2 separate regions of the Homo sapiens genome follow, and region 1 is reported to be linked to region 2. Evidence: microRNA targets listed by miRTarBase, many of them from high-throughput screens and not tested one by one. Region 2 holds a microRNA gene; the other region holds the end of a gene's coding sequence.
What was found. The annotated mature microRNA hsa-miR-29c-3p reads UAGCACCAUUUGAAAUCGGUUA and lies in region 2 at 1,857-1,878, opposite strand. An mRNA with a match to its seed (bases 2 to 7 or 8) in the 3' UTR can be bound and repressed. Matches are read on the target gene's strand: a 7mer-m8 pairs with bases 2 to 8, a 7mer-A1 pairs with bases 2 to 7 and ends in A, and an 8mer does both.

Region 1 (5,377 bases), not on the chromosome of region 2:
TTTTATTGGAGAAGTGTTAGAATCCCAGATCTGGGGCCAGGTGTGCTCACTGCTCCTGCAGGGCTGCTTCTCTGAGGCCCTCTCAGCTGACAGAGTGAAGAAATACATGTGTCTGTACTAACCCCTACAGATATTTCTTTATGTGACTATAGGTGTCTATAATAGGTTAAACCCGAGTTCCTACTGATATCTCGGACTCTAACCATTGTGTCATTTCCCCACTTTGCTGTAAATTCTCCTTCAACAATGAGAAACATGGCTCCCACCATCGACCATCCGCTTAATTAATGGTTCTTTTTTTTTTTTTTTTTTTTTTTTTTGAGACAGAGTCTCGCTCTGTTGTGGGATTACAGGCGTGAGCCACCGCGCCCAACCAATGGTTCAGTTTTAGCATGAATATAGTGTCAGCACTGTTCACTGGTACTCCTGCAAGAAACAACTTTATCCACTAGAGTACAATGCTGTGTGCAGTTCTCTTTGCCTTTGTTCTTAGAGACGCCACTCATTTCCAAATTACTTATATTATTAATAGCACGTTTCCCCTACCGGCTTCAATGAGCTCCTGAAACTTCTGTGGTTTTTTCTTTTTAAATAAGTGGATGGCCCTTTTCCAGGAAGGCAGCCTCAAGGAAAAGCCACCTCCAGGTGTAACCAGAAGCACTGAGTATTTCTCAGGGGGAAGGACAGCCTTACATTTTATTGGCTGAGCTGAACTTATGCTGTATGAATACAAATAGCTCATAGATGTTTGTAGCTTGGTGCCTTCCTGAGTCTGCAGAGTGAGGCTCTTGCTGTACCACGTGTGGGAGGTGAGGATGCTGTTCCCTCGTTGCCTTCAAGACATCTGCTTGGGTTTGGTCTGTCACTTTAAGATCAGCTCAGTGTTACCCTTCCCTTCCTTGTCTAGCATGTCATGGAATTTACTTTCCAAATCATTCTCCTCCCTTCCCTGCACTGTGCATTTTAAATCACAGTCCTCAACCTCAACACATTTAGAACTCCCAGGTTGCAGCGATTCTCTACCTCCTTCCTCTTAGGTCCTGGACACGTACGAGTGCATACATACCTGCGGCTTTGGGCACGTTCACGTGTAGTGACTGATTTCATTCTCCTGATGTCACTCTGATGCACAGGTACTTTCATTCATTTTACCGGAGGCCCAGCCCACTGAAGCAACCCATCCAGGCCGTCCTTGCCAACGTGCTCTTCTTGGGTGGTTTAAAGGCTGATGTGCTCTCCAGGGCTTGTGAGTCTTCCTGGGCGCCCCTACCCAGTCAGGATGGCTGCAGACGCATCTTCATGCGCATTCCAGCAGCGTCTCTGCCAGGGGTGCTGAAAGTCACTGTCTGAAGCAGCTGGGAGATGGAAGTGATTCTGACTTTGGGGCACCCACCCTCTGGAAAATGTGGCACATCATTAGAGGGTGGTTCAAGCACACTCAGCTCTCAGGGAGCAGTTATTCCTGGCACCAAGAAACTAGCCTGGAAAAAATCTGTCTTTTGCAACATGCAGGATCCATGAAGGACAGAGCTCTGATTTTCAAGGTGCAGGATGTTCAGCGGTTCGATTCCAGATGAGGCATCTCCACTCACTATACTTCAGCGGGATCGTGGGCTCCCTGGCACAGATGTCAGGGTTATGAATTGTGATTGGTTTATATTTTATGATCCACATTTTGGAAACCAATTATTTGTTGAGGATCTTTGTCTTCTCATTTATTTTAGGTCTAGGGTGAAACATTTCTTTTATGTTTAACACTGGGCACTGACGCTGAGGTGTGATCCACACACAAGGTATCAAGCCTACCTCAAGTCGAGCAGGGGTCTTCAGGACTGCAGCACACTTTGCGGTTGCCTCCTTGGCAGTAGGGGTGGAGTCTAGAATGAATTGTTGCTTCCCAGCTTCTAGAGTTGCTGTGGTTGCGAGCTCTGGTCTCTTGATCCCCGTCTCACACGCTCTGGGCCCACTGTTTTGCTACAGCTATTGCTGTGGTGACTGGCCATGAGCAGGTGTGGCCTGACACACCGTGTCTCAGCTCTGCCTGGTTCTCTACCACCTCCACCTGGCATCTGGCAGGAGCCCACTCAGCCATGCTGGTGTGTGGTGCACCTGGGAGTGTGAGGGAATTAGCACCCTCAGGCAACCCCTGACCAGTCGAGACCGCAGCTGATGGAGAACACTTCCCTTTCCAAGCCATGGCTGGACCATCTGAGGATCCTTCCTTGGTGGATCCCCAGCAGGATCAAGCCTAAACAGCCCACAGTGGTAACCCCCTTAGTCCCATGTCCTTGAGTTGGCTTTTCTTCTTCCTGGTATCACCCCCTCCAGGTCCCACTCAGGCTTCCTGATATCGCCTTCCCATATAGCCGTGCTGTGTAGAGGTCGTGGCCTCAGCCAGCTTCTGGGGGAACACGCGCCAGGGCGGCTGCGTATCTATTTCAAATAACATTATAAGGTAGGATACTTATTTCATAATGTGAACCTTTTTCTTAGGAAAACTTCAATTTGAGATTGCATTTCAGAGGGTCAAAATAAACTGTGAGTTGAATCTCGGAGATTGTTTCTTTGAAATACTGAGCTTTGACTTGGGAAGTTATGTGGGATCTTTTTTTTTTTGTAGACATGGATCTCACTATATCGTCCAGGCTGGTCTCAAACTCCTAGGCTCAAGTGATCCTCCCACCTCAGCCTCCCAAAGTGTTGGGATTACAGATGTGAGACACTGCACCCAGCCTATGTTGGAACAAATTGAATGACTTACATTTGTGAAGTACCCTTTCTCCAAATTCCCACAAGTGCTGGTTCAGGTGTTTTCTTTTCTTTTTTTTTTTTTTTTTTTTAGATGGAGTTTCACTTTTGTTGCCCAGGCTGGAGTGCAGTGGCACGATCTCAGCTCACCGCAACCTCTGCCTCCCGGGTTCAAGTGATTCTCCTGCCTCAGCCTCCCGAGTAGCTGAGATTACAATCACCGGAAAATTTTTATGTTTTTAGTAGAGACGGGGTTTCACCATGTTGGCCAGGCTGGTCTCGAACTCCTGACCTCAGGTGATCCAGCTGCCTCGGCCTCCCAAAGTGTTGGGATTACAGGCGTGAGCCAGCACGCATGGCCTGGTTGGGGTGTTTTCTGTAAGCATTAGTGAGTTATAAACAAACACATTCCCCGAGAAATGGCTGTAATACCACGAATGGGTTCAACTCTACTGAGATGGATTAAAAACAGCAGCGTGGGCGGACGCTGTGCCTCGCATCCATCTGAGCAGACGTTTTGCTCTATGGACACGAGATTAAGGCGGTCAACAACTCGGGGTTTAAAAATATTCAGAACCAAGTTTTATTTTGTAGTCGTTACACAGGAGGGGGCAGTCAGAAGAGTACAGCTCACCCCCAGCAGTGGAGGGGTTAAATCTCAGGGACAACGTGGGGCAGTGGGGACAGCACCTCCGACCCTATGGGGTGTACCTTCAAGTAGCAAGGCTGACAATGATGTCTAGAAAGGTCTCCACTTCTGCCTGAGTTTTGCCAAACCCAGTGGTCTATAGGGATGTGGCAAAAGAATGACCTACCGCAGTGTGATTATCAGTGTTTTTTAAAATAAAGAGCACGGTTTTGCCTTTAAAATAATTCACATCAACGGTATTTGGGAGAACATGGAGCTGGCATAACATTGGCGTAGAAAGCAGGGCCAGGCCCACCCACGGGGCCCTCGTGTGGGGACGGGTGCCTGAGGCCCTGAGCCCCTCGAGCCTCTGGCCACGGCTGGCTGCCTGTGTGCTGTTGTCTCGTCTGTCCCACCCCGAGAAGGGAGTTGAACAATGTGAGTTGTCTGTGGCATTGGAAAGTGCAGTGGTTACATGGGTGTGTGCGAAGTGGTTAGCTGTGCCTTCAGGCGGTGCGTCTAGCAGGGCTGATGGGGGCCAGGGCTGCTCCTGGCTTTCTGTGGGCAGGGCTTGCCCTCCAGGGACCCCGAGTGCTTGCACCCGCTCGGTGACAGTGGCTGGCAGGTCTAAGTGCTGCTGCTGGATGCAAATTCCTTTGGTAGACTTTTTTTTTTTTAAGAAAAAAATAAAACCAATTTTTGGGTTGGCACCTGAGGTAATAAGTTAAGAATAAGCACCAAAATGGCCCTTCCTGGCACGCGCCGGCTCACAGGTTCTTCATGCACACCTGGCAGCGGCTGATGTGTGTGCGGATGAGGCCGGCCTTGAGCGTGTCGGCGGAGGGCGAGCCCTGGAAGCTCTGCTCGGGAATGGTGGTCAGCCAGAAGCTGTACTTGTTGGCGTAGTAGTGGCAGGTGCCGCGGCCTCCATTGCATTCGATGAATGGTGTGGCGCGGAAGTCCTCTAGACAGCTGCCCGGTGACACCAGTGATTGGCCACCGCCTTCGTCTCCCGCCGCCGTGTGCTGCACAGAGAGGGGGGCAGGACAGGGTTAGGAATCACAGCCTGCAGGTGGCACGGGGTCAGGGCATAGCCCTCTTCTGTGCATTTGTTTTTACTGAACAGCAAACCATGAGTGTCAATACGGACATGAGGCATCCTCGCGAATGCGCCTTCAGCAAGAGGGGGCTGGTGAAATACACATGGGCCCCCTGCAGGAGGCAGCCCCAGGCACCAGGACGTGCTGCAGAGGCAGCTGCATGGACACTAATTCACAGCCAGGCTGGCCGTTCGGTAAGAACTAGAGCCGTGACAGCAGATACGAGCGGTAGATATAATCCACTGCATTTCAGTAACAAAACAAAACATCTGCCTAATCATCCATTCAAAGAAAAATACCTGGCAGAAGAGATAACACAATGTTTACTCTTTTTAGAAGAAAAAAATAAAATTAAGATGTAGGCTGGCATCTGAGGCTAATAAGTTAAAAATAATCACCCAGCCAGGCCTCCCAGCTCCTTCTCTGAAAATGCTGATGATCAGGGAGGAAAGATGAGTGGTTTTATTTTTTTTTTTAAATCTGTACTTGCTGATTTTTCACAATAAATATGTATTACTTGTGTAATTAAATATATATTTTTTCAATCAGAGGTTGTTAAATAGTTGATTCTGAGGCTGGCTGGGAGATGGCTGAGGTCTTCAAGGAAGCCTTTTTTTTTTTTTCATTTTAAAGTTCTACTTTCTGTTGCATCAACATGTTTAGCCTTTATGGAAGCGCACGGCAGGCCTCCTGGATCCCAGAGTTGGTGTATAAGGGCCATTTGGCTTGGCTGAGCAGGCTTTGAGTGGTAAGTGGGCTTTGGAATCTGTTTACTTAGAATAGAAATATCTCAGTTCAGTTTGCAGGGAAAAAAGGGGCTGTTCTATGATATATTTGGGCAGGGGCCCCAGTTTAAGCTTTCCTTTAAATACAAAAAAAAACCCAAAAACCTTTAAAAAGT
Region 2 (5,377 bases):
TCAATGAGAGTGCTATAAACTTCTTTTATAGAAAAGACGTCTCAAATCATTGTTTTTGTGCTTTAATGCTGCACTCAATTTCACACTTACTCGTTTGAGGACTGGAATCAGGGCCTCCTGAGAGCAAAAATCTGTCGTCTGTATTTGCAACACCTAGGCTGGAGCTTTGAGCGTGGTGGGCGGATCAAAAACTGTTTAATTGGTAGGTAGTACAACAGACCCCAAAAATGTCTGACCTATAGGTATTTAATACTATTGTAGCCTATCTCAGTGGGAAGTGAACAAAACAATATAACTTAGGGTCTTAACTAACACCACCACTTAGGGTCTTCCCACCACATCCTGGGGATTAGAACATGGGTTCTTCCATCAACAGCCTGAAATAGCACTGCAGCTGCAGTGAGGGGGTGCAACATATGTACTGGCAAGTCTTCCCAGCAAATGCTACTTCCGCCCCCCACTCTCAGCCCACTGGGCAGGGCAGCCATCTAGAGGAAGACTGTGGCAGGGGGTTGGGCTTAGAAATGGCTTCCTAGGTGGCTGATTTGCCATCATTTATTGCAAGCCACTGGCTTAAAAGAGTTCTACTGAGGGTAGTTCATAGTCATGCACCTCCTGTGCAAAAAGCCTGATCAAGGGGCCACAGCCCGCCTTCCTGAAGATCCTACAAGCTTGATCCCCTATCAAATCAAATCTGGCTAATCTCTGAATAGCTTTACAAAACTGGCTCACTGGGCCAGGCGAGGTGGTTCACGCCTGTAATCCCAGCACTTTGGGAGGCTGAGGTGGGTGGATCACGGGGTCAGCAGTTCGAGACAAGCCTGGCCAACATGATGAAACCCCGTCTCTACTACAAAATACAGAAATTAGCTGGGCGTGGAGGTGCCACGCCTGTAATCCCAGCTACTCGGAAGGCTGAGGCAGAATTGCTTGAACCCGGGAGGCGGAGGTTGCAGTGAGCGGGGACAGTGCCATTGCACTCCAGCCTGGGTGACAGGGTGAGACTCCGTCTAAAACAAACAAACAAACAAAAAAAAAAAACAAAAAAAAACTGGCTCATCTTGTTTTGAAGTGTTGACATAAACTAATAGTCAAAAGCACCACTCAATCTTTTATAATGCAAGTGAAATCAGTGCTGTGCCCCTTCAAGGAACCATGTGACAGTATGTTTAGTTGAGCACCAGTTCCTTGCAGGAACAGTTGCTGGCAGAAGGGCTGTGTCTACAGCCCATGTGGAACTAAGGAGTTTTCCCATTCAGTAGGGAGCATCCCTCAGCCTTGATCTTCAACATTTCTTCTCTTCCCTAATCTTTTCTCTCATTTTATTTCTTGGCTCATAGAATTTCATTCTTCTCTTAATGGGCTTCATTTTTAATGTCTGGCTGGCTGTAACCTACTTCAAATTCTTTATGAAGTAGGCAAGATCTGCACAGCCAATTAATTTTTCAGGACCCACTTCTTATCATCACAGAATTATGAATGGGAAATAATAGATGAAAAACACAGACATGATAAACTGAACATAGTATTTATTAAGGTCAGGATGCATGAATAGACTCTTCTCAACAGAAAGATAATTCAACAGCAATCAATTTACAGAATTTAGAACAGCACTACATTTCAGCAAAATGCAACTAGAGAACATCAGATAAATTATAGTAATTTGTTTTTAAAAATCCATTAAACTATCTCTTACCTCTGCAATAATGTATCATACATGCAGTTACAGAAGTTAGTAGGGAAAAGCATGATCTTCCTTCCCTATTCTCTGCCCATCCATCTTCCAGGAAACCACAGGCTGCTGCTGCCCAGAGTTGGCATGAGGCTTCGAGGCTGCTGCTTTTCCCCCTACATCATAACCGATTTCAAATGGTGCTAGACAAAAACAGACTCTGAACACCAGGAGAAATCGGTCAGCCTGTGTAAGAGATGGGCCAGTGGTGCTCCCAGGGTCTGCACCTCGACAGTCCAGGTGGCAAGTCTGATTTCGGGTGCCCCGCAATCAACGCCGAATACTCCAGGGCATCCTCTAAGAGCAGACTGATGGTGTCGATGTGGACAAAATGGTCCTCCAGGTGTACTGCCCTCTCCCCTGCCCCATGACAATCGACACCCAATACATTGTTATCCAACAGAATATGACAATCGCCACACTCAAAGGCCCTACGAACACATTCATGCTGGTGATGGCTGCTAGGAGTCAACAGAAATAGCATCACAACCTCTGCCCCTGCTCAAGCCACTGTGTTTATTTTAAACACAACCCCCTTCTCTACTGTCACCTCTCCCAAAACCCAACAAACTCAAGAGTGTATTTTGCTCTTCAAGTTCTTCCCTGGACTTCTCGAACAGACTCAAGTGGCAAGAGGAGAGGAGCCAGTTCCATGAGCAGCAGTTCCTCTGCAGTCCACCCTTGGCTGTGCTGCAATTCTTACTCCTAAAACACTGATTTCAAATGGTGCTAGATACAAAGATGGAAAAATCTAAGCCACCATGTGAAACCAGCTTCCAGAAGAAGAGGATCTCAATGAAGAAAGAAGGGAGATTCAATCGGAAGACCCAGCCTCTGCCCTGAGGAGAAATATCTTCTTGTAGTTCTACTTGTGATATGACACAGTGCTCCATGGGAAAGGCACAGAGGAGGTTACACAGGGCTGCACAAGGCAACATGAAAGGCACAGCTGATGCTTCAAATAGATGAGAGCAATACAAAACTCATTAATTCTAGGTTAATTCTATTTAACTTCACACCAGTCACTACAAATTATTATATATGATGAAATAAAAGCTAAAATTATTACTAAAATACATTAATATTTACATTTGTACTGCCCTGCATTTGTATAGTATTTCACAGTACACAAAGTGTTTCCAGATATATTCTCTTACTTCATCAGGACACAAGCACCCTATCTGCCTGTGGAATGAAGCTCCAGCTGCTACACAAAGGCGAGTCTCACCTGGGCCAGGACAACTCTTTTATGTGTCTTAACTTGAGAAAAGCATGCATTCCTCCTTCCCACCCCATATGTAAGTATCAGAACATTCAAATATGACCCCATGAACCTGCAATCTTATTTAACCCCGATGTGACTTCAAAAACTGGTACCCTATAATTGTATTAAGCAGATAATCCTCTAACGTAAGAATTGAGTTTTATTTTCAAAGTCTGCTTGAAAATAAGATTTGCACACTGTATTCCAAATTAGATTTCCCATCTCCTTACTGCATCATCTTTTTTGGTGGTTTGAAGCTAAGAAAATATGTGTATTTCCTCTGATACCATAACCAAGAGAAAAGAGACAGAGTAGACACTGTATATTTTAGCTTCCTTTCAGGCCTCTAGATACAGCCTTATAATTTTTATGGTTCCTGGCACTAACAGTATGTGTTGCTAGAAGGAGAAGAAATAGAATTTGAACATCAAAAGTTGCGGTGTTTAATTCTCACAACAGTCGTATGGGGCAGGTATTATTCCAATTTTTGCGAAGAAATTCATCCTTAATGAGGCTAAATAACTTGTCTGCAGTCACACAACCAATCAATGCAGATCCCAGGTCTAACTCCAAAGACTGTGTTTCTGCCCTTGTATCCACTGCAGCCTGCTCCATAACTTGACTATCATCTCATTTTGTTCTTGAACTTCATTAAGAACAAAACAGGGTGGGTGGGGCAGGAAATTCCTAGGCGATACTTCTGCACTGAATGGGATCATACTGACTACATAACACGTTATACTTAGGGGGAGACAGGAGCATCATCTGGGTTCTGCGAAAGCCGGGTGGTCTGGGGCAGCTTGCTTTGTTCTCCTGCTCCTCTAGCGCCTTTGCCGTCTTTCCCCAGCATGTGGCTGTGGGAAAGACACTGAAGATGAACCTGCAACAAGCGATTCTGACACCAGCGCTAGGCTCTACAGCCCACGGGGGACTTGCTAGCCTCAGTCACAGGTGGGAGAGCTGGGGCAGATCTGCACACAAGGGCTCTCAGTGATGACACCTGTAGCCAACACCTGGGGCTTGTTAACCAGGTAACAGCCAGGGTTGTAAGGTCAGGAGTGAGTGTTTAAGGACAGTTACTACTGGGAGTCCAAATCCTGTCAAATGAGGGGATTTGATGAGATTCTCACTTTTCTGCTTTTCATTTTAGCCACTCTTCCTTATCAACTTTTAGTTACCAGTACCCCCTCCCTATGAGCTATCACACAGGTGTCCCGCAGTGATCAGAAAGCACCTTCCTCCATGGCGAGGTCCTGCCTGCCTAAGCTGTTGTCTCTTCTGGAATACTCTCCTTCACCCTCCCTTGGCTACCACCCCTCAGCCCCGCCCCCACCCACCACCACTCCAGGGAACCTGTCATCCTCCCCGCAGCTCAGGAAAGCCTCCCTGAGTCCAGCCCTTGCTAGAAGGTTAAGTGGTCCTCGCCAGCCTCAAGTTCTTTCCTTCAAAAACCACTTATCTCACTTGGTCATCAGTGTGATTATTTAATGTCTCTCCTGCTACCCGTAAGGGACCATTCGGAGTACAGCAGAGGGGCTGTGCATAGCAGGACGCCACTGCCACTGAGGGAGTTAACAGAAGCCACAGTCTGGGTCCCCACTCCTGGATTCTAAAATTTAACTCTTTACTCTCTGGAAGAAGAGATAAGAAGCCATTAACAATGCATCACTTTAATTAAACACTCTAAAAGAAGTGGAGAAAAAAATCATGTTAGTATTGAAATCCTTTGCCTTTCCAATTCCACTGGATAAAAGGGGTCCTTCAGGTCTCAGCCCTCCCAACAGAACCAGTTTTCTCCTCTCAGAATCAGCTGAGCAATGACTCTTCGCTGAAACAAGCTGGTGGCTGTTCCCTACTAGGAAGCAGCCAGTTAGTTTGGTAAGGGCTGGAAGGGGCTTGCTTTCCCTGGCACCATGCCTGAAGGCCACCTAGACCTGTAAGAAGGCAGCCCATGAAAATCCCAGCCTGCTGAGAGCTCTGCCATCCAAGGAGGGTGATGGGTTTTACCCACCTCAGCCTAATGACTCCAAACAAACTGGCTGAAGGTGAAAGGGTTGGCAGGGCTGTCTGGGGAGGAAAACCACCCATCCAGAAGGGTGGGCATGTCAGTCTTACGAGTGCTGCCACGCATGGGAAAGGTGTGGGAGCTATACTCTAGCCTGGTCCACTTCTGTCCCCACATTCTACCTGGAGGCTTCTCGACCTCACACCAGGGCATTAATCTGCTTGGGCACACAGTGAATCAGAACACAATGGTTTTAATACCTGCTTGGCCCCAACTCTGAGAACAGGGACCTGCCACTTGCCCTGAATGGGCCTCAGTGTCTTCATGTGTAAAGAGAGGAGGCTGAGGTAGGCTGCTCACAGCACATTCAAATGCT

Region 1: miRTarBase lists COL4A2 as a target of hsa-miR-29c-3p. Seed matches in the 3' UTR shown: 7mer-m8 at 4,110-4,116.

Annotation. Positions count from the first base shown.
Region 1 is chr13:110,510,958-110,516,334 of GRCh38, reverse strand. COL4A2 (collagen type IV alpha 2 chain) reads right to left here. Exons shown (of 48, transcript NM_001846.4): 48 at 3,126-4,401. The coding sequence ends at 4,144. Among named protein-coding and RNA genes, the nearest start is that of COL4A2-AS1, 5.5 kb to the right of the region's middle. RefSeq lists enhancers at 1,566-2,065, 3,791-4,419.
Region 2 is chr1:207,800,009-207,805,385 of GRCh38, forward strand. It overlaps MIR29C (microRNA 29c), which reads right to left and starts at 1,931; the gene lies at 1,844-1,931. It overlaps MIR29B2CHG (MIR29B2 and MIR29C host gene), which reads right to left. Exons shown (of 6, transcript NR_135299.1): 6 at 1,510-2,654. MIR29B2 (microRNA 29b-2) reads right to left here and starts at 2,515; the gene lies at 2,435-2,515.